Homo sapiens: one gene and its partners. The protein of the gene in region 1 purifies or fractionates together with the protein of each later gene. This does not show direct contact. Each region holds a gene or a part of one and is shown in the gene's direction. Other genes may lie near its edges.

Region 1 (3,788 bases):
ATATATTCACCAACAGCTTTATTATGTATTGTATATGCTTCATATTAAGACTAATAACTTAGATTTCTTTCCCCCTGCTTCATCCCAAGAGACTTTAGTGTTCTCTAAGTATCGTAATTTTTGCTTTCTAAAAACTCATATATTATTAAGCATGAGCTTTAAAGTATGGCTTAAACTTCAGTTGTAACGAATCTCATAAAATGCTAGCATGCTGAACTTTGACTCTACAGTCAGCTCACTATTGAGTTAGTCTTTCCACTAAAGACAGTTATCTAGTGGGTTTTACCTTGTTTTAGAGTAACTTAGGAAGCAGGGACAGTCATGCCCTAAAGTGAAACCAGTAGAAAACTGGCCTGTTTCATTTATTACCAACATGAGTTTGATTATACTACTGTGACTCTAGCTTCTGAAACAGCAGTTGCTCAAAGTGGGAAGCCTTTTAAGTGATTTCATTCCATTTGGATATTCTCAGAATGATAGAGTTGTTTGCCTTTTCGAACTTGTTTTCACAAAGGTATTTAGGTAGAACTTTCTAACATCACTTACTAGTAATCAGGAAGGTCATTTGCCACATAAAAGGCAATACCTTATTTTATTCCCTGTAATACTTTGTGAGTGTTGGCATTTATTTTTTTTTTTTATTTTTATTGTTGAGACAGGGTCTTGCTCTGTCGCCCTGGCTGGAGTACAGTGGCATGATCACAGCTCACTGCAGCCTTGACCTGCCAGGCTCAGGTGATCCTACCACATCAGGCCCCCTGAATAACTGGGAATACAGGCATGCGCCACCATGCCTGGCTAATTTTTAAATTTTTTTGTGGGCCGGGTGCGGTGGCTCATGCCTGTAAACCCCAGCACCTTGAGAGGCCGAGGCAGGCGGATCACGAGGTCAAGAGATTGAGACCATCCTAGCTAACATGTTGAAACCCTGTCTCTACTAAAAGTGCAAAAATTAGCCAGGTGTGCTGGCATGCGCCTGTAGTCCCAACTACTTGAGAGGCTGAGGCAGGAGAATCGCTTGAACCCAGGAGGCGGAGGTTGCAGTGAGCCAAGATGGCGCCACTACACTCCAGCCTGGCAACAGACAGAGACTCAGTCTAAAGAAAAAAAAAAAATTGTGGAGACAGATGGAGTGTCACTATGTTGCCCAGGCTAGTGTCACACTCCTGGGCTCAAGCAATCCTCCGCCTTGGCCTCCCAAAGCACTGGGATTTACAGGCATGAGCCACTGCGGTCAGCCTGATGCTTGGCATTTAAATGCCCACAGTTCAGCAGCAAGTGGTGAAGAATGGTGGTAATTCCAGTGATTTGAGTAGCTGAGCCATTCTTCTATTAAGTAACTTTGGATAAAACATCATTTCACTCTCTTAGAGAAAGTTATCATCTGTTATCCTTACAGTCAGGTAGTGGCTGTTATGGGATAAGTGTCTGTTTTTGAAAATGATCAAACTAAGACATACTTTCTGGATTCTGCAGTCACATGTGACTTAGGAGCCAAACCTTTTATCTGAAAACAAAATGAAGCCACAAAACCCAGACCTTTTGATAAGATAGCATAAAACCTTCTTGAGTTACTTTTAATCTCATGGGATCAGTCAGGCTATAGATTTTTGGTGGTTATTTCTTTACCCAATTTATTTTTCTATTCTCTAGAATAATAAATTTGTTGAAATGCCCTTTGCTCTCACTTGTCTGCTCTTACAGCTTTCCAATTGTAGCTTCCTGTTGTACCACCACACCCCAACTCCTTACCTCTTGTCTCTTTGGCAGTGTAGACTTCTCTCTGTCATAGGTCATAGCCCTGATCACCCTATAATCGTCTGTTTGCCTGTTTCCCTATTAGACTGTGACATCCTGGAGGGTAGGGGTTACATCTTTTGTTTTTTTTAAGACAGAGTCTCGCTCTGTCGCCAGGCTGGAGTGCAGTGGCACCATCTCAGCTCTCTGCAACCTCCGACTTCCTGGTTCAAGCGATTCTCCTGCCTCAGCCTCCCAAGTAGCTGGGATTACAGGCATGCGCCACCATGCCCAGCTAATTTTTGTATTTTTAGTAGAGATGGAGTTTCACCATGTTGGCTAGGGTGGTCTCGATCTCCTGACCTCGTGATCCGCTCGCCTCAGCCTCCCAAAGGGCTGGGATTACAGATGTGAGCCACCGTGCCCCGCCAAATTTTTGTATTTTTAGTAGAGATAGGGTTTCACCATGTTTGCCAGGCTAGTCTCGAACTCCTGACCTCAAGTGATCAGGGGTTACAACTTTTAACACCATATCCTCATTGTGCCCCTAAGTACTCCAAACCTAGGATTTCAGTTTATTGTTCTTTACACCCTAACTCTATCATTTAGCCCATGCCTAGTACATGGTAGGTGTTCTAAATAAACATTTGCTAATTGAAAGAATGTTGCCTTAATCCTAAAACTTTTATACTTTCAGACCCGTAAGAAACAGAAGGAAGATGTGGAAGTTGTAGGAGGCAGTGATGGAGAAGGAGCCATTGGGCTTAGCAGTGATCCCAAGAGCCGGGAACAAATGATCAATGATCGGATTGGTTATAAACCCCAACCCAAGCCCAATAATCGTTCATCTCAATTTGGAAGTCTTGAATTTTAGAGATGGATTATCTTGCATGCCAGAGCGCTGGAATGGAATAAAATGATGGCAGAAGTACAAACCAGATTTAGAGAATTGAGTGCTTGCAGTCAAGCAGAATGTACCTCCTGCAGAGACAAATCTTCTGCATGAGATTACTGATGCTTCACTTGCACTCTAAGCTGGAATCCAAACTCTGGTTTGTCTCTTGAAAATTTGACTCTATAAAACTGATCTGATTTTCTGTTTTTAAAAATAAATATATTTTTGGAAAAATGTGAGGCATCCTTAATGAAGTATAACAGTACTGTTAATTCCCAGACTTTAAAAGATAATTGCTACAAGATTAACATCATTCTTTCCATCTTTATTAAAAGACCCTAAGCACAGGACACTCTAGTTGATCCCTGCCACTTTCACTTAACCCATCTATTCAATAAGTATTTATTGAGTGTCTACCATGTGCCACTCAACAAAGATCCCTGCCCTTGTAGAAATTAAATTCTAGTGGATATTGTGTAAATCTGAAGAAATTGTAGGTACCCGATCTCTTTACAGAATGGCTTTGTAACTAGTTTGGGTATAATGTTGGGAGGACAGGCAATGGAGGAAAGAGGAATGCTTCTAACAGTTTTGCCATTATTCCAACTTTCCTTCCTTTCTCAACTTGCCTAAGTGTTTTTCCCAGAAAGAACCAGAGAGGCAGCTCGGAGGATAATTTTGAATCATGCCCTATTGTTCTGGGCATTAAAAAAAAATTTTTTTTAAAAATTTTTATTGTTTTATGTAGAGACAGGCATCTGTGTTGCCCAAGCTGGGCTTGAGCTCCTGACATTAAGCAGTCCTCTCAAAGTGCTGGGATTACTGTGCCTGGCCTGTTTTCACTAATTCAACACAGGGAATCACCAGCTGTGATCATAAGAGCCTCTTGAATCATCAGTTCTACGGAGACTCTTAGCAGGACTTTAGCCTTTTTGGGGTAGTTTAAGTCTGAGTAATACGAGGGGGAGAGGGACAGGTGTGGTGGCTCATGCCTGTAATCCCAGCACTTCGGGAGGCTGAGGCAGGAGGATTGCTTGAGTCCAGGAGTTAGACCAGCCTGGGCAACACAGGGAAACCCTGACTCTATAAAATTAAAAAAAAAAAAAAAAGAAGGGCCGGGCATGGTGGCTCATGCCTGTAATCCCAGCACTTTGGG
Region 2 (4,247 bases), on another chromosome or scaffold:
GGGCTTAAGTGATCTGCCCAATTCAGCCTCCTAAAGTGCTGGGATTACAGACGTGAACCACTGTACATGGCCTGTTAGGCCTATTCTTTTTCGTGGCCATCTTACCTTGGGCCAGAGTTAGTACTCGTGGGATAACTCCACATCCATATGATAGTGTTGGCTGTGGGAATGGGTCTGTTCATTGTGACCTCCAGAGTGGGCACAATCAGGGTCCAACTTTGTTTTGTTATGTAATATTTTAAGTTCATGTGAATTGACCCTGGGAGTTCAAAGGAGCTGTGCCAGTTTCAGCAACGTTTGGTGACTCAGTCACAGACATTAAAATAGATCTTACAAGATGCAGTTCCTCCAAAACATATTTTTATAAGCATTTAAAAATAAACCTAGGAGTCTAGGAGTGATTTGCTCTTAACAGGAAGATGAGTTCAAATTTGAGAAATAAAATTTGGATGTTGGGAAAGAGAACAAATCTGCTTATATAGCCAGAGAGCTATGCCTCTGGATTTGTTGAGGGGGAAAGAGTATTGTCTTTGTTCTGAAAGAAGCTCTAGCAAACCAACCATTGATTTCAGATTAACTTCTTGATCCTGAAACTGTAACTTCCCTGTCTTCCCAGCTGCTGTTAATCATGTTAATTCCATTATACTGCATGCCTATTTCACCAGAGCTCAGGGATGCGGTTGAATAGTCCGTCCTATAATATTTGGACAGCGGATGTTTCCCAGTTGGCCAGTGAGGCTTCTTAAGCTGCCATTTGGAGATTTAGGTCAGGGCAACTCTGACTACACCCTTTGATATTTCTTACAGTTTCCAGTTGGAGCTTCCTTCTTTTGCTGGTAGAGATTTAGGTTAGGCAAGTGCATTCTGTTTTTTTCTGAAGTTCCAGTAGGGCTTTAGCAGGGAAGTAAAACTATTCAGTAAGTAATTGCAAACAACTGTATGTGGAATCCAACATGTTGCCCTTAAGAGTTAGGTAATTGGCTGGGTATGGTGGCTCATGCCTGTAGTCCTAGCACTTTGGGAGGCTGAGGCGGGTGGAACACCTGACGTCAGGAGTTCGAGACCAGCCTAGCCAACATGGTGAACTACCATCTCTACTAAAAATAGAAACAAATTTAGCCAGGCATGGTGGTGCACGCCTGTAGTCCCAGCTACTTGGGAGGCTGAGGCAGGAGAATTGCTTGAACCCAGGAGACATGGGTTGCAGTGAGCCGAGATGTCACCACTGCCCTCCAGCCTGGGTGACAGAGCAAGACTCCATTTCAAAAAAAAAAAAAAAAATAGTTAGAGTTAGGTAATTTCTGGTTAAGTAACCATAGTGTGTGGAAGGGTGTGCATGAATGTTATAAATGCTGCTAGGGTGGAGGAGTATGCAGAGAAAATCTGCCAAGGATTGTGTGGGTTTGGGGTTTTAAGCTGTTTTTTTGTTTTGATGAGCACTTTGTGCCAAAAAGTTATTCCTCTGTTCTCCTCAACTTACTGGCATGAAGAGTTGAGAGTTGACTCTTCTCAAGGTGGCCTCCTCATAGGGCGTCTCGCTGTGGGTGTGGAAAGAGGCAAGGGCTGCCAGTTGCAGTCTGTTTGGTGCATGTGGTAAGTACTGTTCATCTCGTTTAGGGAAGCCCTCAGCAAGTGCCTTTTGAGACAGCTGTTACGTTTCAAATAAAAGAGTCTTTCTCCCTAAGTTGCTTGACAATAAGTCCTTTATTTGTCAAACTGTAAATTCACTTTAAGACTCTAGGAGCCAGGCCAGGCACGGTGGCTTACGCCTGTAATCCTAATACTTTGGGAGGCTGAGCTGGGCGGATCACCTGAGGTCAGGAGTTCGAGAGCAGCCTGACCAACATGGAGAAACCCCGTCTCTACTAAAAATACAAAACTAGCCGGGTGTGGTGGTGCATGCTTGTAATCCCAGCTACTCGGGAGGCTGAGGGAGGAGAATCGCTTGAACCCGGGAGGCGGAGATTGCAGTGAGCCGAGATGGCGCCATTGCGCTCCAGCCTGGGCAACGAGAGTGAAACTCTGTCGCAAAAAAAATAAATAATAAAATAAAGACCCTAGGAGTCTTCCATCTTAAACCTAGCCCTACAGGTGACCGAATGCAGCTGGAGAATAACTGCTTGTTAAGAGGCAGCAAAACCTTGGGTTTTGTTGGGAACATCATCTCTCACTACTTTGATCTCTTGGCCATATGACAGACTAATCATTAGTGTCGCATTTATTCTTCCAGTGGTCAGATGGGGTGCTCACATGCTGCAGGTTCCTTACATGTGCTTGTTTCCTTCCCTAAACTGAAGGTGCCTTTGAAGGCAGTCTTTTTCTACATCCATCAAGTTCTCTGGGGAAGAGCACTTCTTAGCTATTCCATCAACACTCTTGCCAGTCTAATCTCACCATCAGTTTCCCGTGGCCTGCCCTTTGTCTGAAACTTTGAAGGTTAGCAATTTGGAGAGCTGTCAGAGTGGAAGCATGGGTTGGAATGGTAATGGCATTGAATGTCTTCACGTGTTTTACTTTTTTCAGGTCTTATCGAATGTTACTTAGCCTCCAACAGTATTCGAGAAGCAATGGTAATGGCTAACAACGTTTACAAAACTCTGGGAGCAAATGCACAGACCCTTACCCTTTTAGCCACCGTTTGTCTTGAAGACCCAGTGACACAGGAGAAAGCCAAAACATTATTAGATAAAGCCCTGACCCAAAGGCCAGATTACATTAAGGCTGTGGTGAAAAAAGCAGAACTACTTAGTAAGTGTGTCTTATTTTCTGTCCTGTTCATCATTAATTTTTATAAAACCTGACCTCAGTTGGAGCCCCTTGTCCCAGCTAGTTACAGATGACTAGACAGGTGTGTGCCTTTTGCAGCAGGTCTGAGCCTGCTTGGATTGGTTTATATTTAGCCCAACCAAACGTAGCTGGCTTAGATCTGCTTGGCTTGGTTCCAACCACCTATAATTGGTTGGTATCTATTCGGCTCACTAATTTTTTTTTTTTTTTTTTTTTTGAGACGGCATCTTGCTCTGTCACCCAGGCTGGAGTGCAGTGGTGCGATCTCAGCTCACTGCAACCTCCGCCTCCCGGGTTCAAGCAATTCTTCTGCCTCAGCCTCCTGAGTAGCTGGGACTACAGGCGTGCACCACCATGCCCAGCTAATTTTTTTATTTTTTATTATTTTTTTTTATAGTAGAGATGGGGTTTCACCATATTGGCCAGGCCGGTTTCGAAATCCTGACCTTGTGATCCACCCGCCTCGGCCTCCCAAAGTGGTGGGATTATAGGTGTGAGCCACCGTGCCCAGCCTCGGCTCACTGTTATCTGGTTTGAGTTGTCCTGAATTAGTTGGAGCTGAATATAACTAACTGATTTTAGCCATTTTGAGTGGAGCTATCTGGATGATTTTATGACTTCCCGTTTGGCCCTTTTTTTTTTTTTTCAGTCCTGATTTATGATAAACTCATAATTTGGTTCATTGAATTTGGGCTAGTTGGCAAAGCAGTTTGGCTTTTTAAAGTTAAGAGCCCATTTAAAACATTATAATTCAAACTGCAAATTTCTTTTTTTTTTTTTTTTTTGAGATGGAGTCTCGCTCTGTTGCCCAGACTGGAGTGTAGTGGCACAATCACGGCTCACTGCAAGCTCCGCCTCCTGGGTTCAGGCCATTCACCTGCCTCAGCCTCCCGAGTAGCTGGGACTACAGGCACCTGCCACCAAGCCCGGCTAATTTTTTGTATTTTTAGTAGAGACGGGGTTTCACTGTGTTAGCCAGGATGGAAAATTTCTTAACTGAATAGGGCTTCAGGTGTGCTTGCCCTCGCTTTGTGTTGCACCAGTGTTCTCTTGAGGATGTCTGCAAAGAGATGGTCAGAATGGTAGTTGTGGTTTTTTTGTACATGACTTAAGTGAGGGTCTTTTTTATTCCCCCAGGCAGAGAACAGAAATATGAAGATGGAATTGCTTTGCTGAGGAACGCACTGGCTAATCAGAGTGACTGTGTCCTGCATCGGATCCTAGGAGATTTCCTTGTAGCTGTCAATGAGTATCAGGAGGCAATGGACCAGTATAGTATAGCACTAAGGTAGGCACTAGCCTCCCTTGGGGGAAGGCCACTGAGGAGGGTAGAGGAGGCAGTGAGCTGTGTCACAGGAGTTATGGAAACACACACACACTTTGTGTCCATGGTTGAAAGCAGAATAATAATAGTAATGGTAGAAGAGTTATTTGTGAATTCATGACTTCTAAAAATTTTT
Region 3 (4,247 bases), on another chromosome or scaffold:
TTTCTTGTTTTAGTTTTGGCCTTTGCTCTTGCTGATACCAAGAAAATTGTTTTGTGTGATGTAGAAAAACCTGAGAGCTTACACTCTTTTTCTGTGGAGGCTCCAGTTTCCTGTATGCATTGGATGGAAGTGACAGTAGAAAGCAGGTAATTAGAAAAACTTATGTAGTCATAGGGTATTCATGAGATTTTTATTTTTTGAAATGGAAACTTAGGAGTATCTGAGTATTGGGTGTATGTGCGTTGTATTTAAATTTTGGTTTCAGTTTATCAAGATGAAATTTTTTAATGCTTTCTTAGATTTTTTTTTTCCTTCCGATAAACATCTATAGGCATACCTCAGAGATATTGTGGGCTTGGTTCCAGACCACTGCAATAAAGTGAACATTGCAATAAAAGCAAGTCATTTGAATTTCTTTGTTTCTCAGTGCATGTAAAAGTTATGTTTATATTATGCTATAGTACATTTAAATGTGCAATGACATCATGTCTAAAAAAATTAAGCATGTAACTTAATTAAAATATACTTTATTGCTAAAAAATGCTAACGATCATCTGAGCTTTTAGTGAGTTGTGATCTCACTGAAGGTGGAGGATTTTGCCTTGGTGCTGACAGCTGCTGACTGATCAGGGTGGTGGCAGCCGAAGGTTAAGGTGGCTGTGGCAATTTCTTAACATCAACAACAGTGGAATTTGTCACATCAGTTGACTCTTTCTTTCAAGAAAGATTTCTTTGTAGCATGAGATGCTATTTGATAGCATTTTACCCAAGGTAGAACTTCTTTCAAAATTAGAGTCAGCTCTCTCCAACTCTACTGCTGCTTTATCAACTAAGTTTATGGAATATTCTAAATCCTTTGTCATGTCAACATTGCTCATAGCATGTTTACCAGGACTAAATTCCATCTCAACAAAGCACTTTCTTTGCTCATCCCTAAGAAGCAACTCCTTATCCGTTCAAGTTTCGTCATGAGATTGCAGCAGTTCAGTCCCATCTTCAGGCTCTACTTCTAATTCTAGTTCTCTTGCTATTTCCACCAGATCTGCAGTTACTTCCTCCAGTGAAGTGTTGAACCCCTCAAAGTCATCCATGAGGGTTGGAATCAACTTCTTCCAAACTCCTGTTAATGTTGATATTTTGACTTCTTCCCATGAATTGTGAATGTTCTTAATGACATCCAGAATGGTGAATCCTTTCTAGAAGGTTTTCAGTTTGCTTTGCCCAGATCCATCAGAGCGATCGCTATGTCAGCTCTAGCTTTATGAAATGTTTTTCTGAAATAACAAGACTTGAAAGATGGCCAGGCACAGCAGCTCATGCCTGTAATCCCAGCACTTTGGGAGGCCAAGGTAGGCAGGAGCTCAGGAGTTCAAGACGAGCCTGGGCAACATGGTGAAACCCTATCTTAAAAATTAGCCAGGCGTGGTAGCTATAGTCCCAGCTGCTCAGGAGGCTGAGGTGGGAGGATCACCTGACCCTAAGGAGGTTGAGGCCGCAGTGAGCCGTAACTGGACCACTGCACTCCAACCTGGGTGACAGAGTGACCTGTCTCAAAAAAAAAAAAAGACTTGACAGTTGAAATTACCATTTGACCCATACGATGCAGAATGGATTTGTGTGTTAACAGGCATGAAAACAACATTAATCTTATATATCTCTATCAGAGCTCTTGGGTGACCAGTCATGAATGAGCAATAATATTTTGAAAGGAACCTTTTTTCAGAGCAGTGGGCCTCAACAGTGGATTAAAACATTTAGTGAACCGTGCTGTAAACAGATATGCTGTCATTTAGGCTTTGTTGTTCCATTTATAGAACACAGATGGGATAGATTTAGCATAATTGTTAAGGGCTGTAGGATTTTCAGAACAGTAAATGAGTTTTGGATTCAACTTAAAGTTACCAGCTATGTTAACCCCTAAAAAGAGAATCAGCTTATCCTTTGAAGCTTTGAAGCCAGGCATTGACTCCTCTCTAGCTATGAAAGTCCTAGGTGGTGCTATATTTCACTGGCTTTAAAATACATACATACGTATACATATATATATCTCTATATGTATATATGTTTTAATAAATAAATAGAAAATCCTCGATGGCATCTTCCAATAAAAGGCTGTTCTTCTCCATTGAAAATCTGTTGTTGAGTGTAACCACTTTCTTCAGTGATTTAGCTGGAAGTTCTGTATAACTTGTTGCGGCTTTCTCTCAGCACTTTCATAGAATTGAAGAGAGTTGGGGCCTTACTCTAGATTAGGCTTTGGCTTAACAGAATGTTGTGGCTGGTTTGATCTGTCCAGATCACTAAAACTTTCTCCATATCAGCAGTAAGGCTGTTTCACATTTTTATTTTTTTTGTATTTACTGGAGTAGCACTTTTAATTTCCTTTAAGAACTTTTCCTTTGAATTCACAACTTGGAGGACTGGCAAAAGAAGCCTAGCTTTTGGCCTAATCTTGGTTTTCAACGTGCCTTCCTCTCTAAGCCTAATCATTTCTAGCTTTTGATTTAAAGTGAGACAGTTGAACACTTAGAGGTCATTGTAGGGATATTAACTGGTCTGGTTTCAATATTGTTGTGTCTCAAGGAATAGGGAGGCCTGTGCAAAGGAAGAGAGAGGGAATGGCCAGTAAATAGAGCAGTTAGAACACTCACATTTCTCCATTTTTTAAAATTTATTTTTATTTATTTATTATTTATTTTTGAGACGGAGTTTCGCTCTTATTGCCCAGGCTGGAGTGCAGTGGCGCCATCTTGGCTCACCTCCCAGGTTGATTCTCCTGCCTTAGCCTCGAGAGTAGCTGGGATTACAGACATGCGCCACCACGCCCAGCTAATTTTGTATTTTTAGTAGAGATGGGGTTTCTCCGTGTTGGTCAGACTGGTCTTGAACTTCCGACCTCAGGTAACCCGCCCGCTTCGGCCTCCCAAAGTGCTGGGATTACAGGCATAAGCCTCAGCGCCTGGCCTTATTTATTTATTTTTTGAGACACAGTTATCATTCTGTCACCCAGGCCAGAGTGCAGTGGTACAATTTCAGCTCACTGTAGCCTCTGCCTGCAGGGTTCAAGTGATTCTCCTGCCTCAGCCTCCCGAGAAACTGGAATTACAGGTGTGTGCCACCATGCCCAGCTAATTTTTATATTTTTAGTGGAGACGGGATTTCACCATGTTGGCCAGGCTGGTCTCGAACTCCTCTCAAGTGATTTGCCCTCCTCGGCCTCCCAAAGCTCTGGGATTATAGACGTGAGCCACCATACCCAGCCGAAGCTCACCATTTTATATGGCCATGGTTTGTGGCACCCCTAAACAATTATAATAGTAACATCAAAGATTACTGACCTCAAATCACCATAACAAATAATATAATAATGAAAAAAATTGCAGTATTGCAAATATTTCAAAATGTGACACAGAAGTACAACGTGAGCACATGGCTGCTGGAAAAAGGACTCCAATAGACTTGCTTGGCTGATAGACTTGCTTGACACAGGGTTGCCACAAACTTGATTTGTGAAAAATGCAGTATCTGGGAAGCAGGATGAAGGGAAGCACAATTGAAGGAGATATGCCTGTATTTTCTTGTTGAAGCAGTAAACCTGAATAGCTAAGAGTTTTCTCCTCTTTCTAGTCATTTCATACTCCAAAAATAGTTACTGAGGCACAAAAAACAAAGCTCTAGACGAGATAAATGGTGAAATGGAAAACAACCTCAATTTGCCAATCAGTAATTTTAAAGTTTTATTAATTAATACATATATTAATTTCCATTTCATGATTTATATCATCTGGAACTTTTTTTTGTGTCTCAGTAAGTATTCTTAGAGTATGAAAAATGCTAAGTTGAGCATTCTGTCTAATGCTGGACAGGTTTTTTCTTTGTCCATGGTCCTGATAATTTCCTTGTTTCATAAAAATAATTCTGCATTAGTGTGTGTAGTCAAGTAATACACCAGGGTTGTAGTGAAGAAGGCCGGAGGAATCAGTGGGTTTGGCTAATACTGAAAACAAAAATTGTTTTTCTTTTTTGGGGAAATATGCTAATTTTCTTACCATTAACTTTTCCTTTCTAATTAAGTTATACTAAGGTAATATCAAATGAATTTGTAAATCCTGAATATTAATTGCCAGCTTTCCTAAGGGAAGCCTGAAAGAATTGGATGACAAGGGTTTGACCTGGGGTTTGAAATTCACTGTAGATAAACCAGAGTGATAAATCCATCATCAGATAATGAAGGATTACAAATCGTT
Region 4 (5,024 bases), about 24 Mb from region 1:
GTGTGGCTTGCACCTGCTCTCGGTGGAAAGGAGCACCCTGGCCATCCCCACACCTCGAGCTCTGGCCTGTGATACAGCCTGGTGTCTCTGGAGCCTGCGGGCACCGTGCCCCGCTGTGTTCTGGTACAAATCATCCGTGTGGCCCGGCTCCGTGCTCGGTCCCTTTCCCCCTGCCCCTCTGGCTGCCTCAGGCTCTCCAGCGTTGCTTCCAGGCAAGGCCCCAATGGCCTCCCTCCAGGGTCCTGCCTTGGGTCCCAGGCATGACTCAGCCACTTCCTGTTGCTCAGGCCTGATGTGCTGGGACAGCCACACTCTAGTGCCCTTTGTCTTAACTTCAGTGGGACACAGGAGTGGCTCAGGGAGGCCCCGGGGCTGTGCTGAGAGGTCCCACCAGCAGAGCTCCTGGCCGAGCGACCTTGTTGGACACGTGGCTGGCCATGCAGCCCACAGCGTCACCCCTGAGCCCTTGCATGTGTCCTGCGGCAGGCTGACCAGTGGCGGCGTTTGTGGAGGTCATGGCCTTGGAGCCAGAACTAGGACCTAGCAAGCCACTGACTCCACTTCCATTTTCTGTCCATAAAGAGGGGTTTGTTTCCATTAGAAGCTGCCGGATCCTGGAAGGACTCAGGAGCCCTTGGCCCACAGAGCAGGTGTGTCAGTGCCCCAGTGCTACCAGAACAAAGTACCACAAACCAGCGGGCTTAAAAGAAACATATCATTTTACAGAAGTCAGAAGTCTAAAGTCAGGGTCAGCAGGGCCCTCCGAAGGCTCTAGGGGAGGCTGCTTCCTCCCCTCTTCCAGCTTCTGGGGGCTCCAGGAGCTCCGGGGCCTGTGGGTGCCTCGCTCTGGTCTCTGCCGCGTCGCCCGTGATGTTCCCCCGTGTCTCTGTTCCTATCTCCCTCTTAGAAGAACACTCTCTCTATTCCAGGGTGACGTCATCTTAATTATATCTTTAATGACCGTATTTCCAAATAAGATCTCATCAGAGGCACCGGGAGTTAGGGGTTCATGTGTCATTTTTCGAGGGGCACAATTCAGTGCATGACAATTTGCCCCATGGTGGGCCCCTCCCACGTGCAAGTGACAGCCCCAGTGTCCCCAAAAGTCTTCACCATTTCAGCATCAACTCCAAGTCCAAAATCTCATCTAACTACCATCCACACAAAGTTCCACACACATCTCAGCCTGTAAATGCATCTTAACGAGGTCCAGGTGAGGCTGGAGTGTGCGCCATTCCTCTACGTAAATAGATCTAAACAAGGTACAGGTGAGGCTGGAGTGCGCGCCATTCCTCCAGCTGGGACGCCGTGAAATCAGCCAACAGATGATCTGTTTCAAAAGTTCAGCCGTAAGACAAGCATACACATTCCCACCCCAAAAGGGAAAACTGGGAGGAAAAAGGACAGCGAGTCCAAACCCAGCAGCCGAAATTCCACTTGACTTCCAGGCCTGCGAATCCTCTTTGGCCCCCTGCTCCGTCAGCCTTGGCCTCGGCGGCTCTGCTCTTGGAGCCTGCCTTCCTTTCACTCCAGCCTGGCAGCACTTCTGCGGGTGTAAAATTCTCACACCTTGTTGGCTTATGCAGCTCACCAGTGCCGAAGCCTTCAGACAGGCGGGTCCGCAGCCCTTTCCCGGAGGCCCCACCTGTCCCTGTCTGCTGCTGAGATGGTTAGTTGGATACACAGGTCACACCTCATGTCTAGCAAACCCTGGTCCAGCCACACCCTTGGCCACGTCTCAGAGCTGCCTGGATAGAGTATTTTTCAGATCCCCAAGGGCTGGTGCCTTTTTGCTTAATGGTCCCTGCCTCACTGATTGTTTCCCTCTTGCATTCTGCTATAAGTAGCAAGGAGAAGCCAGGTGGCACCTTCCACACTGCTTGGAAATCTCAGCTTGATGTCCAGGCTCATCAGCTGCAGGTCCCACTTCGCACCCAACAGCAGAGCAGCAGCCAGCCAAGCTCTCTGCTGCCTCCTCCGGTTCCCAGTAGCACGGTCATTTCCATCTGAGACCTCACTGGAAGCACCTGTTGGGTCGGCATTGCTGCCGACATCCAGTCTGTGATGCTGTGTGCATTCTCCAAGACGGCGGCAGCTCTCCTCTTCCAGCCATTTCCAGGCTTGTCTTCATGCCTTTCTACCAGCAGTCGTGCAGGCCTCACCAGTTCTTCCAGCCTCTCCCCATCACCCACTTCCAAAGCTGCTGCCACAGTTCTTGGTGTTAGGTTTTGGCAGCACCCCTCCTGGCCCTTCCTGGTACCAAAATCTGTTCGTTTACTGTGGCTGCTGTAACAAAGTGTCACAAACTGGGTGGCTTAAAAAACAGAAATAGATTGTCTTAGTTTTGGAGGCTGGAAGTCCAAGATGAAAGTACTGGCAGCCCCGTTCCCTCTGAACCCTCTTAGAGACCTCCGTTGCCCCCCAGCTTCTGGTGTTTGCCACAGCCCTTGGTGTTTCTTGGCTTGTGGCCGCGTTGCTCCAGGTGGTCTCTGTCTTCGTGTGGCCCCCTCCCCGCCTGCCTGTGTCTTCCTATCTTTCCTTTTCTTAGAAGGACCCCAGTCAGTTGGGTTAGGATGCACCTCAGTTACATCTGCATCAACCCTGTTTGCAAATATGGCCACATTTCCAAGCACTGGGGGTCAGGAGGCCCCTGTAGCCTTTTCGGGACACACCTTATGATGCTGGCCCCATTGCCCTTCCATGGTGGCTGAGCAGGTGGGGACCCCACCCAGTCCTGTGCTCTCGCTGCTCACCTGCCTGCCAGGGTGGGGTGGGGCAGGTGGCTCTGGGAGCCCCTTTCTCACTGGTACCAGGTGGCAGAGCCCACGGGCCTGAGCGCCCTGCAGCCGAGCTGCCCGTGCTGACCCTGGCCCTCCTTAGGCCATGCGGACCCTCAGTTGGAAGCACACCCTGGGCCTGGTGACCATGGACGTGGAGCTGGCCGACCGCACGCTGTCTGTGGCGGTCACCCCAGTACAGGCGGTGATCTTGCTGTATTTTCAGGACCAAGGTGAGCCCACCAGCCCCTAGCTGGCCTGCCCCGGCCACACGGCCCAGCTGTGGGTGAGGGGCTGTTCCCCAGTGAGGGTGTGGTTTGGGGCAGCTGCGCCAGCAGGCGGCACCCTTCCCTTTCCCACGGGCAAGGCAGGGTGGCCCGGGAGCCCCCCGACCTCTCGGCTGACGGGAGGCAGGGGAGGTGCAGCCCGTGCCCAGGCTGCCCAGCGTCCCGGTGACTCTGCACGCAGCCAGCTGGACCCTGGAGGAACTGAGCAAGGCGGTGAAGATGCCCGTGGCGCTGCTGCGGCGGCGGATGTCCGTGTGGCTGCAGCAGGGTGTGCTGCGTGAGGAGCCCCCCGGCACCTTCTCTGTCATTGAGGAGGAGCGGCCTCAGGACCGGGACAACATGGTGCTCATTGACAGTGACGACGAGAGCGACTCCGGCATGGCCTCCCAGGCCGACCAGAAGGAGGAGGAGCTGCTGGTGCGCGTGCAGGCCCCACGGGGGGCCAGGGGGCGGGGGCGAGGCCTGCAGGTGCCTGACGGGGGCTGGCCTGTGTCCGCAGCTCTTCTGGACGTACATCCAGGCCATGCTGACCAACCTGGAGAGCCTCTCACTGGATCGTATCTACAACATGCTCCGCATGTTTGTGGTGACTGGGCCTGCACTGGCCGAGATTGACCTGCAGGAGCTGCAGGGCTACCTGCAGAAGAAGGTGCGGGACCAGCAGCTCGTCTACTCGGCCGGCGTCTACCGCCTGCCCAAGAACTGCAGCTGACACATCGCCCGCCCGCCCGCCCGCCCGCCAGGCGCTGCCCTGCAGGTGCTCTCGTCCTCCCGTGCCAGCCCCCGCCCGCCCGTGTCCCAGAATGCACTGCTGAGGAGCATGCCCACCCCCACCCCCGCAGTGTGCAGATTAAAGCAAGTCAGATCATCCTTTTCTGTCCTGGTGGCTTTGTGGGGCCCCCCAGGATCCTCCTCTAGCCTGGGCCTCTCTCTCAGCCTGGCAGGGCCTGCTCCTCAGCAGCAGGTGAGGGGCCACCTAGGCCTACACATCTGCACTGGGAATGTAGCCTCCTGAGAGAATCCCGGGCCGCCCCCGACCCAGGGTGCTCAGGGAGCGGCACGTGAAGGTCCACGTCACGCCCGGGCCACGGCTCAGGCAGCCACGTCCTAGGGCTTAGTGCTTGCTACCCGCCAGACCTCCAGCTCCATTCCTGCGCCTCTGGCCTTTAGAAGGAGCCCTGGGGTCACCCTCTGCTCAGCCTGTGCCCACCTCCACACGCTCGGCCAGGAGGTCTCGGGCGAGGTTGGGACGTTGTGCGGGTTCGGTTGGAATTGCTGAGGCTGGCGAATGACCTCTAGGCCAACACGCCTCGTCTCTGGCAGTGAGGCTCTGCCGAAGGCTGTGCCCTGGTGGCCAGAGGGACTGGGCACTTGTCCCCTGCTCCACACTCAGGCAGGGTGGCCGGAGGGCTCAGCTTCACAGGTGTGCCTCAGAAAGGCAGGTCGCCCCTACGTCCTTCACACGTGTGGTCACGCGTGTGCAGGCTGCCCAGGTCCTGTCCTAGAGGCTGGCACTAGGAGAGGGAGACGCCACAAAACTGAGCAAGGGCCCTAGGGTCCAGTTCTGGGCTCTTCTGCTGCTCAAACCTGGGCCTCTGTCCCAGAGGTGCCGTTTCCAGGCCAGACACGTTCCACCCCGATGGCGCCGTCCTCGCGGGGGACAAAGGCCCTTTGAACTGGTGCCTCGAGTCCCGCTCCTGCTGCAGCGCCTTCCCAGGCTGTGAGCTGCGCCTGGTTTCAGTGCTCCCACCGCTGTCCCCAGATGCCCTTGCTGGTTCCCACATGTCCACGGTCCTGGGCTCCTGCAGCCGCCGCCCAGCACCCTCCCACCTCTCCAGCTCTGGCCTGATGCCCTTGCTGGTCCCATGTCCATTGTCGTGGGTTCCTGCAGCTGCCGCCCAGCACCCTCCCACCTCTCCAGCTCTGGCCTGTTTGAGCCGTCCCGTTCAGTGGACATTCC
Region 5 (4,247 bases), on another chromosome or scaffold:
AAGCGGGGGCTCTTTATGAACTCGGAATTCCTCCCTGTTGTGAAGTGCACCATTGATAATACCCTGGACCAGTGGCTACAAGGTAATAGTAGCATTGTAGCATAGCGCTCTTGTGCTTTTGAGATACATTCGGTTCAGGCTTTTCTGTTGTAACTTTGTTTTTTCATTGGTAAGCAAGATAAATCTGAGTATAAGCAAGAATGGCTATAGATTTAACGTTTCCAGCTAGATGAATTAGACTTTGATTATCTACTTTAGCTTCTTTAGTAAAATACATCTGACCCAGGCAGATAATATTTATAGCATTTTAAATACCACTTGGTGCTCAGGACCTTGTTCTCTCTTCCCTAGCATCAGGTCACATTTCCTTTCCAGTGCCTCTGTCTCCTGTTTCCTAGGGGTGTGGCCTGTTGCCTTCCTGAGGCCAGCAGCCATCCTGTTTTTGTACTGGCACCACATGTACATGTAGAAGTTGACGTGTGCTTGCTGAGTGAGCTTGTTGTACCAACTCAGTTTTGAAAACCTGGGACCGCACAGCTATGTGATGTCACAGTGGTGGCTTTCTATCAGCAGGATTTGTGATTGCAAGGAAATTGTAGTTACTCGTTAACAGTGTAGAAGTGATTCTGACTTACATGAGGCAAGCGATGGGGCCTTTAGATTTATGGAAATGTATCTGTGTGTTAAATACACCTGAAACTGATTTTCAGGAGTAGACTCCTTGATCTTTTCATTCTTTTTAGTTCATTCAAATGCTCCCAGTAAATATCTGACAGTTGCTTGCTTTGGGTTAATACTAACCTTAGTAATAGTAGTAGAAACAATTCTTGCTTTGATTAGTGAAAACTATTAGTAATCAATAGACCCTAAGCGTTTGAATATAATTGAGTTTAAAACTATCCACCTGTAACACTAGGAAATAAATTTCTGAAAAAAATTAAATTGTAAACCAAGTTGTGAGGGATATACTTGGAAAGCCTGATTTCAGACTCTCCATGTTTATATTTAAAAGCTGCATTGTATTTGTCATTTCCTGTTCAGATTCAAAGATCATATAGCTTCATAATTTTTTGGATAGTCATTTTTATCCTCATTTTTGGGGAAAAACATGTTATTTCAAAGGTTTTCGTGTTTCGTTTTTATTCAATTTAACATTTGATCACCTATGGCAGACCTTTGCTATTGATAATAAATACTTCCTTAAATCTTTGCAGATTCCCTGATTTGCACATTTCATATAATGTATGGAACTTTGGCAGTGATTAGAACATTCTCTAAAACAGGGCCCTGATTGCCTTGTTGCTCTTTAGCGCATTTGGTGGTTTCCAGCATTGCTGTCAGCCTCCATTGAATTTGACTTGCCACACAGATTTATCAAAAATGTGTTTATTTTTTAGTGAAAAACTAGAATTTTTTTTAAAACAAAACCTCTTAAATATATAGTCTCCTCTCTTACAAGCACTAGCAGTTGGCTTTGGGGTAGAGAACAATAAATTAACTGAAAATTGGAAATTGCATTCATATTTGTGTGTAAAAATCACAGATGCATATGTGGACTTTCAGGATCACTCACTGACAACTCATTAGATCTGAGATAACCCATTAAATCACTACACTAATCTGAAAATGCAGCCAATTTATATTATATAAATGTCGGTTTTGTTTTTTCTTTCTTTGAGACAGAGTCTCGCTCTGTCGCCAGGGTGGAGTGCAGTGGCGCGATCTCAGCTCACTGCAACCTCCACCTCCTGGGTTCAAGCGAGTGTCCTGCCTCAGCCTCCTGAGTAGCTGGGATTACAGGTGCACGCCACCACACCCAGCTAATTTTTGTACTTTTAGTAGAGACGGGGTTTCACCATGTTGTTCAGTCTGATCTCGAACTCCTGACCTCATGATCTACGTGCCTTGGCCTCCCAAAGTGCTGGGATTACAGGCATGAGCCATGGCGCCTGGCCTATATAAATGTTTTGTACAGTATTTATCTCCTCAAATTATAATTTTGGGCAAAGAAAGCGGGTTTCAAGTTTAAGAACTTTAAAAAGTTTTATTAACTTTTTCATATTTTGTTATGGAAATTTAAAGAATATACAAAGTAAGTAGACTAGTGTAATAAACCACAACACCAATTTTAATAGTTGCCAGCATTCTCCTATTTTTGCGTCATTTGTACCTTCACCCATTGCCACACTCAATTTTCCAAATTGTGCCATTTTACTTTCCCACCAGCAGTGGATTGCAATGCAATTTTTGGCATTGTCCTTTTTTTTTTTTTTTTTTTTTAAGACTTGTCAAGTGCAGTAGGAAAGCAAAGTAAACCCAAAGCAAGCAAATAAAAGCAGAAACCAATGAAACCAAAAACAGATAAGCAATAGAGAAAATCAGTGAAACAAAATGCTGGTAGACATGAGAAAGTCATTGAAGAGAGGCTGAACCACCATGCTCTCCTTCATGATGAGCTGTTCAAAGAAGAATCTCATCTGTTCTCCCTTAACCTTTCTCCCTCTGCTGCCTCCCCCAAACCTAAATGTTTCCACCTCCCAGTAGACTGACATCCTCACAACTGTGTTCAGTGGAGTCTACAGTTTTCATCTCACTCCATCTCTACAATGGTGAGGCTTTTAGCTACATTTTCCTTCTTGAAATGAGCCTCCCTTGACTTTGTCATAGCACACTTTCCCAATTTTTAAAAAAAATCCTCTTTAAAAATTCTCAGTATTTGTCACCATTTCACTGTCACTCCTTTGTTGACCCTTTTGGAAGTCATCCTTGCTCCTTTCCCTCCTTCCCTTCTCTGCAATAGCTGACCCATTGCTGATGCCTTTCAATCCTCATCATAGATATTTCTTGAATTTGTCCACATTTTACTATTTCTACCTAGAACAGAATGATGATTTTGTGCCTGGACCACTGTTATAGCCTCCTAAATAGCCTCCTTGCTTTTTCTCATCTCCATTCCAACCATCTCAATTTAACTGACAGAACAGTCTTTTAAAGAATAAACTGATGTAACACTCCTGCTTAAAGCTTTTCAATGGCTCCTGATTCAGCTGTGAAAGAAATCCCTACTGTGTGGCACCAGGACCTGTGTGACCTGCAAGGCGCCTGTTTTCCTCAACAAAGCCTCTTTTACACCACTTGCTCCCCACACCACCCTGGCCCCTTCCACTTACTCAAAAACACTGAGCTCCTTTTCACTGTGGGGCCATTGAATATGCTGTTTTCCCTCCCTAGAACCTTTTCCTCTCATTCTTCACCTGCCCAACTCATATTTATCCATGCAGCCTCAGTTTTAATGGCATTTCCTCCCAGGCCTTCCAAGACCACTCTCCCTCAGGCAGCTTTCCTGACATCTTTAGCCTGCCCGCTCATGCTCTCTACCTTTTTTCTGTATCAAAATGCCTTTGTTTGCAAGTAAAAGAAGGCCTGACTTAACCTGCCTTTAAACAGTAAGGACACAAGTATGCCTATGTTATTAGAGGTCTGCAGGTAAGGCACGTAAAGGGTCATCTTTTTCCAGTGTCTTCAACTCCATTTCTCTGAGGTTCCATCAGCTACATTCTGTGCCATGACTTTATCCTCAGTGCATTTTTCGGATGGTAATCAAATGGCTGTAACATGTTCACCTCTAGCTCAGCATGATACTCAGAGGAAGAATAGAGTTGCTTCTAGGAGTTTTGTGATGAGAATGAGGGAATTTCTTTCCCTGGAGCCTCCAGCAAGCTTGTCATTAAGTACCTCCTCAGGTTTCTGGCTCGAGTTGCATCTCATGCACACCTCTCAATCTATCCCTGTGGCAGAGAATGTCTCTTATTGAAAAAATGGCCTGGGTCTGCCTGTCTCTGAACTAACACTGCATCAGGAGAATGGGATTGCCTTGATCACCCAAGATCAGTGATTCTCAAAGTGTGGTTTATGGAGCAGCATGACCTGGGCACTTGTTAGAAATGGAGTTTTTCTGGCCCCACCCCAGACCTACTGAATAAGAATCTCTGTGCTCTGTGCATGGAGTGGGGCCCACTCATCTGTGGTTTAACAAGCCTTCCAGGTGATTCTGGCACATGTTAAAGTTTGAGGACCCCTGGCCAAGACTAGTAAGGATCTAGTTCTGGAGCTGAAGTCAGTCCCATCAAATATAATATATGGTGGAGGGTAGGGTGTGACAAGGGGTATTTCGGGGAGACAACCACAGTGACCACTGCACCTTTATAGCACTCCTCACAATTTGTAATTATGCATTTGTTTGTGTC
Region 6 (4,849 bases), on another chromosome or scaffold:
AGTGAAGTACCCAATGGATATACCATTAATGTTTTTCTAAGTCAATGGGAAGACACTTAAATGTCTTAAGAGTCTACAGAAATACAAAATCAAACCAAGCCAAAGAGGAAGTCAGCTGCAATTTTAGTGGGTATTGCAGACTTCCCTCTCCTCCAACGGAAGAATTAGCTAATTCTTAAACTCCAGAGAGGCTGGCCTCGATGTCAACTGCATAGTGAAACATAAAATCTTTGAAATAATTATAAAAATAGCTCAGTATATCCACCAGTGGAGTAAGAAGAATTTCCCTGAATATTTATAAGCACAGGCCTAGTATCCTGGTCACTAGTTTCTGGCCACTAAGGAGCCTCAACTGATTGGGAAAATCACATCAATTGGTTTGAGATGGTTGAACTATTTCTTCCATGATATTATTGAGCAAATAGGCTTGCTGCCCCCTGCTCACAGAAGCCAATATCTGGACACTGGGTTTTGAGGAAAGAAAAACTTTATTGCAAGACAGGTCAGCAAGGAGACAGGAGGTGGGCTCAAATCTGCCTCCCCAGTTTGGAATCTGAGAAAATGTATGGCTTAGAGGGTGAGGGAAAGGATTTAGGAATGTTGGTTTGGCAGGGACTGATTGAAGGGCTTCAAATTTGACCACTAAAGGTAAGGTATGTTGAGGCAGATTTCAGCCCTGGATCTTTTGGGCCAATGAGCCCCTAGCTTCTGAAAGAGGTCCTGCATTTAGGTTCCCGTCATGTCCTTGTCTTCTTGGTTCCCAGGGGAGGGATCATTTGTTCTAGGTTCTGTTAGAGGCAAAAACATTTTTATTGTGCATGCCTGGGCTAAATGACTTACAGTTTTTGGCTCTGTTATATCTACAGAGTAAATTGACATTTGTTATCAACAAAGTACGGCCCATTTGGGCTGGTCCCATGGTTATAATGGGTGTGTGGACGGTCGAGTGTTTCAATTCTGGGAAAGTTTGATGTGATTGTATTCAGTTCAAGGAAAATGTGTGAATGATATCATATATAGCATATAAAATGTTTACAATATTTAAGAGATTGGGCATACTAGCATGTTTGATAAATAAATTGATGATGCAATTTAAAATGCATAACAGAGTATTTGATTTTAGACTTATGATTTTTAAATTGAATATTATAAAGTAATTTGGCTAAATGTGTGAATAGTATTGGAATATTTAAAACAACTTAAGATTTATTATGTTAGTAAATTTATTAGTTTACAAAACTGCATAAATAGCTGGAAAAGCGTTACTTGTTAGGCTGAGAATTTTGAAGATTATTTTTCAAGTTCTTTGCCAGACACGTGTGGCTCTCACAAGTAAGTTTGTTGGTCTCTAGCCTTTCTCAATGGCCACTGAAAACCAGATTTTGATTACGAAATGTCTGAAATACAGTATCTTGGTTTGAACCGTGAGTCCTTCCTGCCAATGTAAGAACTTTTCTTCCTCCCTTAACTTTGCTTCCTTCTTTCCTGCATGTTACCACTGGCAGAGCAAATATGACTCAGAAACCGGCTCCTCAGGGTTGTAACATTAGATGATACAGGCTTGGGTCGTTACACATGACACCAGTGCCTTTGTTTCATTGGGCTGGGCTCTCTGGAAGGTGTGCTGCTGCCTGAGCTGCTGGAAAAGCACTGACAGGTGTTTGCTAGAAAAGCACTCCTGGAGCTTGCCACCAGCTTGGACTTCTAGGGACTTTCCTCTCAGCCAGGAAGGATTTTGATATTCATCAGAAATACCTCCAGAAGATTCAAGGAGCTGTAGAGGTGAAGTAAGCCTGTGAAGGACCAGCATGGGAATCCTATACTCTGAGGTACATCACCTTTCTGAAAGCAGAGTTCCAAAGATGTTAAAAGTTACTCATGCTTTTCAGATGCAATTTTCTATCCCTGTTAATATATTTCTGTTTTGTCTGTTCAACTCCCTGGGGGAGCATTAAGTCAGAAAAAATAAAGTCCTATGTGTTATTCTTGTTGATATTCTTAATAGTTTAAGACAAAGTATTTTGTAATTCTAAAATATTAGCTAGATCTAAGTTGAGATGAATATAATACACATTTCATAGTATCTGGATGTTTGCAAGGATAATTTGGACAAAATCGAGTTTGAGTTGTGCTTTTCTCATGACAAACACTCAGAGAAAAAGAGAAAATTGTACTCAATTGGATTTTCTAAATATCCAAAAGATTGACTGCCTCTTTTATGGAACCACATGACCAGAGTAATGCCTTTCAGCTTGGTATTTGAAGGGAGATTCACCTTTAGTAAATATTAGTAAAGACTATCACTATGAAGAAGAGGAATAATAACATATTTTGATGATTTGATTATTTTCTTTTCACATCTGATAAATACTGAGGTACTTTTACTTGTATTGGAAGTAACTTATTAGAATCAAATGGATTTTTAATGATGTTTCAAGAAAGTACAAGCAAGGAATGTTTAGACAAGAGTACAAGAGGTGTAATGATGTCATTATACATAATTTACTCTCTCTCTCCTCTGACACAATTAACTGGTTAATCTGCATTTCATTGCAGATGCTCAGGGGAACCTTCTTGGATAGTTTTGATCTAGTATTAAAGACAGTTTATTTGCAGTTATTTCTAATGCCATGTGTGTATATATCTCTCCGTGTGTGCAAATGCAGTGTTTGATTGGTTTATAACTCTAGGTATGTCTTGCTCAGTGATTTTAGCCTCATGAAGGGATCATATACATGAAAATGACAAAACATATAGTGCTTTTAAATGCTACTCTGGTAACTCTCAAACTTTAGACTGCCCAAGTGTCAGGGAGAGAAGTTTGTTTGAAATGCAGTTTCAAGGGACTCCAACCCAGAGAGTCTGTTTCACTCAGTCTATGGTAGGATACAAAAGTATACTTTTTAAAAGGAGCATCCCAGGTGGTTCTGACATAGGGGTGATCTGTTTACCACCATCCTGAGAAAGAAAGACTGCCACAGGCCAGTGCTTTCCCGTTTTTAATGTCTATACAGATCTTCTGAAGGTCTTGTTTAAATGCAGATTCTTAGTTTGTAGACCTGGGTGGGACCTAAGATTCTGCATTTTGGTTGCTTTTTCAGATTGCATGTGGGAATTATATGTGATTTGGAAAAAGGAAAAAAAAAAGCCTAGTCTCATCCTCAGGTATTCTGATGTAGAAAGTTGGAAGTAGGACCTTTCATCTATAGTTTTAAAGAGTTTGAGACTCTTTAAAATTAAATAGTAATCTCTTAAATATTTAAACATAGCCTACTCATTTGTAATATATCATTTGCTCTGTGTTTCCTAAGGATAAAGATTGTGAGCTACTCATTAAGGACAAGAAAAAAGCCTGCTGGATCCCTGGTCCTATGTTGCCTGGAAGAATCTATTCAAAAAAAAAAAAAAAACTTCCCCCAATTTGAGTGCGGGAAGCTCCTCTAGATTGGGGACATAGGGTTATCATTTTTCCTTAGAGCTTTGCAGTGCTAATAGTTATGCAATATATATTTTTAAGAAAGAAGGAGAGAATGAGGGAGGATCCCAGAGAGCTGGTCCTGAAATCTGCACTAGAGGATAAGCTTAGAGCTCAGTGAGAGGCCCTAATTTTGAATAAGTAACTCCAACTGCGTAAGATGGACTTTTAAACAAGGCTGATTCATTTAAACCCTTATCAAAGGTATTTGTTCATAATATTTACAATAGCAACAAACATGTATTTAGGGCTTCTTATAGATTAGGCCCTATTTTAAGCACTTTATATATGTATTAACTCATTTAATACAGCAATCTTGTAAGAGTCACTTTTAGTATCCTTATTTTACAAATGAAGAAACTGAGGAAAAGGTAGTCACTGGCTCATAGTTACACAGTTGAAAAGTGCTTATTGGCTGGAGATTGGTGGCTAGGATGAGTCCTGTGTTTACTCATTCAAAGAGATTCTTCTTACATCACTGCTGAACTACTAAATTTTTCTACTACTTGTTATTTCAACAGATATGTCATGCTCCATAAGAGAATTGGTCTTAACCACTCTGGTGTTCTGCCACTGTTCTAACCAGGATGGTGCCCTGTTCCCTTAGTGGAAAGAATGAGTAAACTAAATCCAGGTCCAATGAGGTACATTCTACTGCTACCTTGCAACAGAGAACTGTTGCATTGTGAAGTAGCACAAAAATCGGAAAGAAGAAAAATGCTGAGAACTTAAAAGAGTTCAGGAACTAATACTTAGGAGACTTAAAGAATCTTTTACAGACTTTTGGTCTCTTCAGTTGCAGACACAGGCCCCAAAAAGCGTTTCTTGAAAATCATATCTTAAATGATGTATTCCTTTAAACATTGGGAAGTTCTCATTATAAGGCTGTAAGTAAAAGGATGCACACACACCCACACACACACACACACACACATGCACATGCACACACACAAACTTAAAATTAATCCTTTGGCAATGGATATGTTTTTCAGAGAAGCTGATGTTACTACAGAAAAAGGAAATATAGTTCAAAAAACAGAAAGATTGTCTTGAAATATACAATGCCTAGGGAGAGCAATTTAGATCAAGCAAGTTTTATTGGAAAAGCTGGTACAGTTGAGGAGGAGAAGTCAGGGAATACAGGAATAGAGATGTGACTAATTGAATGGCCATTGGACTGAAAGTCAAGCAATCCTATATTTTAGACCTGATTGTGCCAGGAACTTCAAGGGATTTGAGAGGAAGTCATTTAACCTCTCTGAGTCACAGTTTTAATATTACAAAACAAGAGAGCTGAATGAGATCTGGTTTCACATTTAACATCGTGTCATTCTGTGATATGAGAAAGGCTAGGCAGAGACAATGGGGAAAAAA
Region 7 (4,247 bases), on another chromosome or scaffold:
TCAGAGTGAAGGAAGCAACACTTCTCTAGACCTGCTTCTTTCATCTGAAGGTTGAAAGTCATCCCCAAGATGTCTCATGGCCCAGATGTCAGGGTTCCTCAAGGTCAGCCTGACTCAGACAAAGTGAGAACTTCAGGGAAACCAGGGAAGTTCTCTTCCTCTCCAAATCTTCCCTCACCTGCTTGTTGTTGGCTGCCTTATCCCTGGCCAGTGCCTTCTACTCTGGTGGTGGTGGTCTTGTTGTTTTTGAGACAAGGTCTTGCTCTGTCACCTAGGCTGGAGCACAGTGACGCAGTCATGGCTCACTGCAGCCTTGATCTCCTGGCCTCAAGTGATCCTTCCGCCTCAGCCTCTTGATTAGCTGGGACTATAGGCACATGCCACCATGTCCAGCTAATTTTTATTTTTTATTTTTTGTAGAAACAGGGTCTCCCTGTGTTGCCTAGGCTCTTCCACTCTGCTTTGGAGCAGAGACACCTGACAGTGAAGGACCAAATGGCTTCCATATACATCAGGGGTGAAGTGACTGACAGTGGCCCTTGCCTGGGAGAGGCTGAATATACAAACAGACAATGGCTAGACCATGTAGAAAAACAGAACTCTGACGCACAATAGCAGCAACCAGCACAGGAAGCCAGCCTACTATCCACAAGTCAGACTTGTAGGAAGTCAGACCACTATCTTTACCAACCAGTCCAGCAAGCCAAATAATGACCACTGTAACAATTGGCCTCCAAAGCCAGGACTTGATTAATAACTGATAGCTGCCCTAATTTTTGCCCCTGCTTCCAACTTAGGACCAACCGGAGAAAGCCAAATATGTACTCCTAACCAATCACATAGGATGTCCCACTCTTTTTTGAGACAGAGTTTCACTCTTGTTCCCCAGGCTGGAGTGCAGTGGTGCAATTTCGGCTCACTGCAGCCTCCACCTCCCAGGTTCAAGCAGTTCTCCTGCCATAGCCTCCACCTCCCAGCTTCAAGCAATTCTCCTGCTGCAGCCTCCCGAGTAGCTAGGATTACAGGTGTGTGCCACCAGGCCTGGCTAATTTTTTGTATTTTTAGTAGAGACAGGGTTTTGCCATGTTGGCCAGGCTGGTCTTGAACTCCTGGTCTCAGAAGATCTGCCCGCCTCAGCCTCCCAAAGTGTTGGGATTACAGGTGTGAGCCACCGTGCCCAGCCAGGTGTCATGCTTCTAGTTAGCCCACCAACAGCTTCCCCATGCCAACAGCCTGCAATGGGAGCATCCCTGAAGCCTTTTTTTCCACTACAGAGCATTCCCATTCCTTTGCCTGCCTCTAAGTCTCTGCCAAAAGCAAGTGATGGTGGTTGACTTCCTGCTACAACAAGCTCTGATTGGCTGGGCGCAGTGGCTCATGCCTGTAATCTCAACACTTTGGGAGGCCAAGGTGGGTGGATCAGTTGAGGTCAGGAGTTTGAGACCAGCCTGGGCAACACAGTGAAACCCCATCTCTACAAAAAATACAAAAATTTGTTGGGTGTAGCGGCGCACGCCTGTAGTCCCAGCTACTTAGGAGGCTGAGGCATGAGCATGGCTTGAACCTGGGAGGCAGAGGTTGCAGTGAGCCCAGATAGCGCCACTGCACTTCAGCCTCGGTGACCCAGCGAAACTGTCTCTCAAAAAAAAAAAAAAAATTAGCTGGGTATGGTCATGCACCCCTGTAGTCCCCCCCCACTCAGGAGGCTGAGTCACAGGAATCGCTTGAACCTGAGAGGTGGAGGTTGCAGTGAGCCGAGATTACACCACTGTACTCCAGCCTGGGTGACAGAGCAAGACTCCATCTCAAACAAACAAAAAAAAGAACAAGCGCTGAATAAATAGCCTTTGTTTGTTCTCAAAAAAGAAAACAACAACAGAATAAACAGTAAACAGGCTGCAGGCTAGATTTACTGCTCCCTGATCTAGAATAATGGTTTTGGACTGATGACAAGATCCCAGGCATAGATGGAGCAAGATAGAAGCAAGGAGTATTAATTTTATTTAACAAACACATATAGAGCCCTCACTATGTGCCAGATATTATTCTAAACACTTTACAACTACGGATTCATTTCATTATCATTAAAATCCTGTAAGCGATGAGCACCATGATGATCCCCAGTTTGCAAATAAGCACACTGCTCAGAGAAGTGAAGGGTCACACGGCTGGTGAGTGGTGGAGCCAGGATTTGAATGCAAGGAATCTGTCAATGTCTCTGCTGTTTGTGCTGTTAGAGAAAAGCTCCACCTGCACAGGGAGAAGCCTGATGACAGGGCCTGGTGGTCTCTGTATCCCTGGGCCTGGACCTTAGCAGACCTCAGTTAGTAGTCACTGAGATGAAATGGAATGGAAGATGAGTAGTAGAGTGCCTGTCAGGCGTTGTGATGATGACAGGGCCTGTGGACCCACTGTGTCCTTGTGCCCACTGCAGGGGACCCGAAGCTGCCAGTACTGTACCAAGTGGAGCGGACACGAACAGGGTCGAGCTTCTCGGTGCGCTCTGTGAAGGCCGTGCAACATGGGAAGCCCATCTTCATCTGCCAGGCCTCCTTCCAGCAGGCCCAGCCCAGCCCCATGCAGCACCAGTTCTCCATGCCCACTGTGCCACCACCAGAAGAGCTGCTTGACTGTGAGACCCTCATTGACCAGTATTTAAGGTGAGAGACCTGGAGGCTCCATGGCAGACTTTTCAAAATGCAGCTGCTATCTGTTTGTGGGTCATAGAATCCTTTAGTGGGTCTTGACCAGCATTTTTAAAATACAGATTAGAAAAGAAGATACTGGAGTGAATAATATGTATGTATTAAGGGCAAGAATCCTTTTGTGAAACTTGAGGTTTAGTCATGTGTGTTTCTGGTGTGTGTCTGTACTGGGTCATGGTATAAAATGAAGGGCTTGGCCGGGTGCAGTGGCGCATACCTATAATCCCAGCACTTTGGGAAGCCAAGGCAGGAGGATTGCTTGAGACCAGGAGTTGGATACTAGCCTCGCCAACATAGCAAGACTCCATCTCTAATTTAAAAATAAGGCTGGGGCTGGGTGTGGGGGCTCATACCTATAATAACACTTTGGGAAGCCCAAGTGGGAGGATCACCTGAGCCCAGGAGTTCAAGACCAGCCTGGGCAACATGGTGAAACCCTGTCTCTATAAAAAATACAAAAATTAGCCGGGTGTCGGGGCATGTGTCTGTAGTCCCAGCTACTTGGGAGGCTGAGGCGGGGGGATCACTTGAGCCTGGGAGGTGGAGGCTGCAGTGAGCCGAGATCGTGTTACTGTGCTCCAGCCTGGGCAACAAGAGCAAGACTCTGTCTGAAAAAAGAAAAAAAGAATATATATTTTGTTGTTGTTTATATATATACATGTTTGTTTGTTTTTGAGATGGAGTCTTGCTCTTGTTGCCCAGGCTGGAGTGCAGTGACACCATCTCGGCTCACTGCAGCCTCTGACTCCCAGACTCAAGTGATCCTCCCGCCTCAGCCTCCCAAGTAGCTGGGATTACAGGCACCTGCTACCATGCCCAGCTAATTTTGTATTTTTAGTAGAGATGGCGTTTCACCATGCTATCCAGGCTGGTCTCAAACTCTTGATCTCAGGTGATCCACCCACCTTGACCTCCTAAAGTGCTGGGATTATAGGCATGAGCCACCATACCTGGGAAAAAAAACCATATATATATTTTATATATATATGTATATAGAAATACTTCCGTAACCACTTGTTAAGTACCACCTCCCCAGCCCCCTAAGTGATTCCCTCTCTCCCCCAGGCCCCTGGTCCAGCAACTTAGGACTTAATGCACACCAGGAGTGAGTGTCCTCTGGAGAGCTGCAGCGCTATGGCCTATGTTTGGTCACTGCCTTTGCATTAGTGCATGTTTTTGTTTGTTTGTTTGTTTTGAGACAGAGTCTCGCCCTGTTGCCTAGGCTGGAGTGCAGTGGCATGATCTCGGCTCACTGCAACCTCTGCCTCCCAGGTTCAAGCAATTCCCGTGCCTCAGCCTCCCAAGCAGCTGTGATTACAGGCACATGCCACCATGCCTGGCTAATTTTTGTATTTTTTTAGTAGAGACCAGGTTTCGCTATGTTGACCAGGCTGGTCTTGAACTCCTGACCTCAAGTGATCGACCTGCCTTGGTCTCTCAAAGTGCTGGGATTACAGGCGTGAGCCACCGTGCCCGGCCACATGTTTTATGTATATAAAACATATGTACAAAAATACAAATATGTATTTTCCCCTAACCATT

What was found.
Region 2: the proteins of CDC26 (region 1) and ANAPC7 purify together in Homo sapiens (affinity purification with mass spectrometry; 5 studies listed by BioGRID and IntAct, with this or other methods). This does not show direct contact.
Region 3: the proteins of CDC26 (region 1) and ANAPC4 purify together in Homo sapiens (affinity purification with mass spectrometry; 11 studies listed by BioGRID and IntAct, with this or other methods). This does not show direct contact.
Region 4: the proteins of CDC26 (region 1) and ANAPC2 purify together in Homo sapiens (co-immunoprecipitation; 7 studies listed by BioGRID and IntAct, with this or other methods). This does not show direct contact.
Region 5: the proteins of CDC26 (region 1) and ANAPC1 purify together in Homo sapiens (co-immunoprecipitation; 6 studies listed by BioGRID and IntAct, with this or other methods). This does not show direct contact.
Region 6: the proteins of CDC26 (region 1) and ANKRD22 purify together in Homo sapiens (co-immunoprecipitation; one large-scale study listed by IntAct). This does not show direct contact.
Region 7: the proteins of CDC26 (region 1) and ACOT8 purify together in Homo sapiens (affinity purification with mass spectrometry; one large-scale study listed by BioGRID and IntAct). This does not show direct contact.

Annotation. Positions count from the first base shown.
Region 1 is NC_000009.12:113,266,086-113,269,873, reverse strand, and holds the end of CDC26 (anaphase-promoting complex subunit CDC26), read left to right. Parts: intron 1-2,434; coding exon 2,435-2,611; 3' UTR 2,612-2,882; downstream 2,883-3,788. UniProt on the Homo sapiens protein: Component of the anaphase promoting complex/cyclosome (APC/C), a cell cycle-regulated E3 ubiquitin ligase that controls progression through mitosis and the G1 phase of the cell cycle.
Region 2 is NC_000012.12:110,375,894-110,380,140, reverse strand, and holds part of ANAPC7 (anaphase-promoting complex subunit 7), read left to right. Parts: intron 1-2,297; exon of another isoform or gene 2,298-2,436; intron 2,437-2,523; coding exon 2,524-2,748; intron 2,749-3,924; coding exon 3,925-4,075; coding exon of another isoform or gene 4,076-4,079; exon of another isoform or gene 4,080-4,247. UniProt on the Homo sapiens protein: Component of the anaphase promoting complex/cyclosome (APC/C), a cell cycle-regulated E3 ubiquitin ligase that controls progression through mitosis and the G1 phase of the cell cycle.
Region 3 is NC_000004.12:25,383,248-25,387,494, forward strand, and holds part of ANAPC4 (anaphase-promoting complex subunit 4), read left to right. Parts: intron 1-13; coding exon 14-146; intron 147-4,247. UniProt on the Homo sapiens protein: Component of the anaphase promoting complex/cyclosome (APC/C), a cell cycle-regulated E3 ubiquitin ligase that controls progression through mitosis and the G1 phase of the cell cycle.
Region 4 is NC_000009.12:137,173,694-137,178,717, reverse strand, and holds the end of ANAPC2 (anaphase-promoting complex subunit 2), read left to right. Parts: intron 1-601; coding exon of another isoform or gene 602-650; intron 651-936; exon of another isoform or gene 937-2,880; coding exon 2,881-3,010; exon of another isoform or gene 3,011-3,202; coding exon of another isoform or gene 3,203-3,245; coding exon 3,246-3,481; exon of another isoform or gene 3,482-3,563; coding exon 3,564-3,776; 3' UTR 3,777-3,934; downstream 3,935-5,024. UniProt on the Homo sapiens protein: Together with the RING-H2 protein ANAPC11, constitutes the catalytic component of the anaphase promoting complex/cyclosome (APC/C), a cell cycle-regulated E3 ubiquitin ligase that controls progression through mitosis and the G1 phase of the cell cycle.
Region 5 is NC_000002.12:111,772,694-111,776,940, reverse strand, and holds part of ANAPC1 (anaphase-promoting complex subunit 1), read left to right. Parts: coding exon 1-82; intron 83-4,247. UniProt on the Homo sapiens protein: Component of the anaphase promoting complex/cyclosome (APC/C), a cell cycle-regulated E3 ubiquitin ligase that controls progression through mitosis and the G1 phase of the cell cycle.
Region 6 is NC_000010.11:88,848,567-88,853,415, reverse strand, and holds the start of ANKRD22 (ankyrin repeat domain-containing protein 22), read left to right. Parts: upstream 1-1,571; 5' UTR 1,572-1,808; coding exon 1,809-1,829; intron 1,830-4,849.
Region 7 is NC_000020.11:45,846,863-45,851,109, reverse strand, and holds part of ACOT8 (acyl-coenzyme A thioesterase 8), read left to right. Parts: intron 1-2,434; coding exon 2,435-2,660; intron 2,661-4,247. UniProt on the Homo sapiens protein: Catalyzes the hydrolysis of acyl-CoAs into free fatty acids and coenzyme A (CoASH), regulating their respective intracellular levels. Displays no strong substrate specificity with respect to the carboxylic acid moiety of Acyl-CoAs.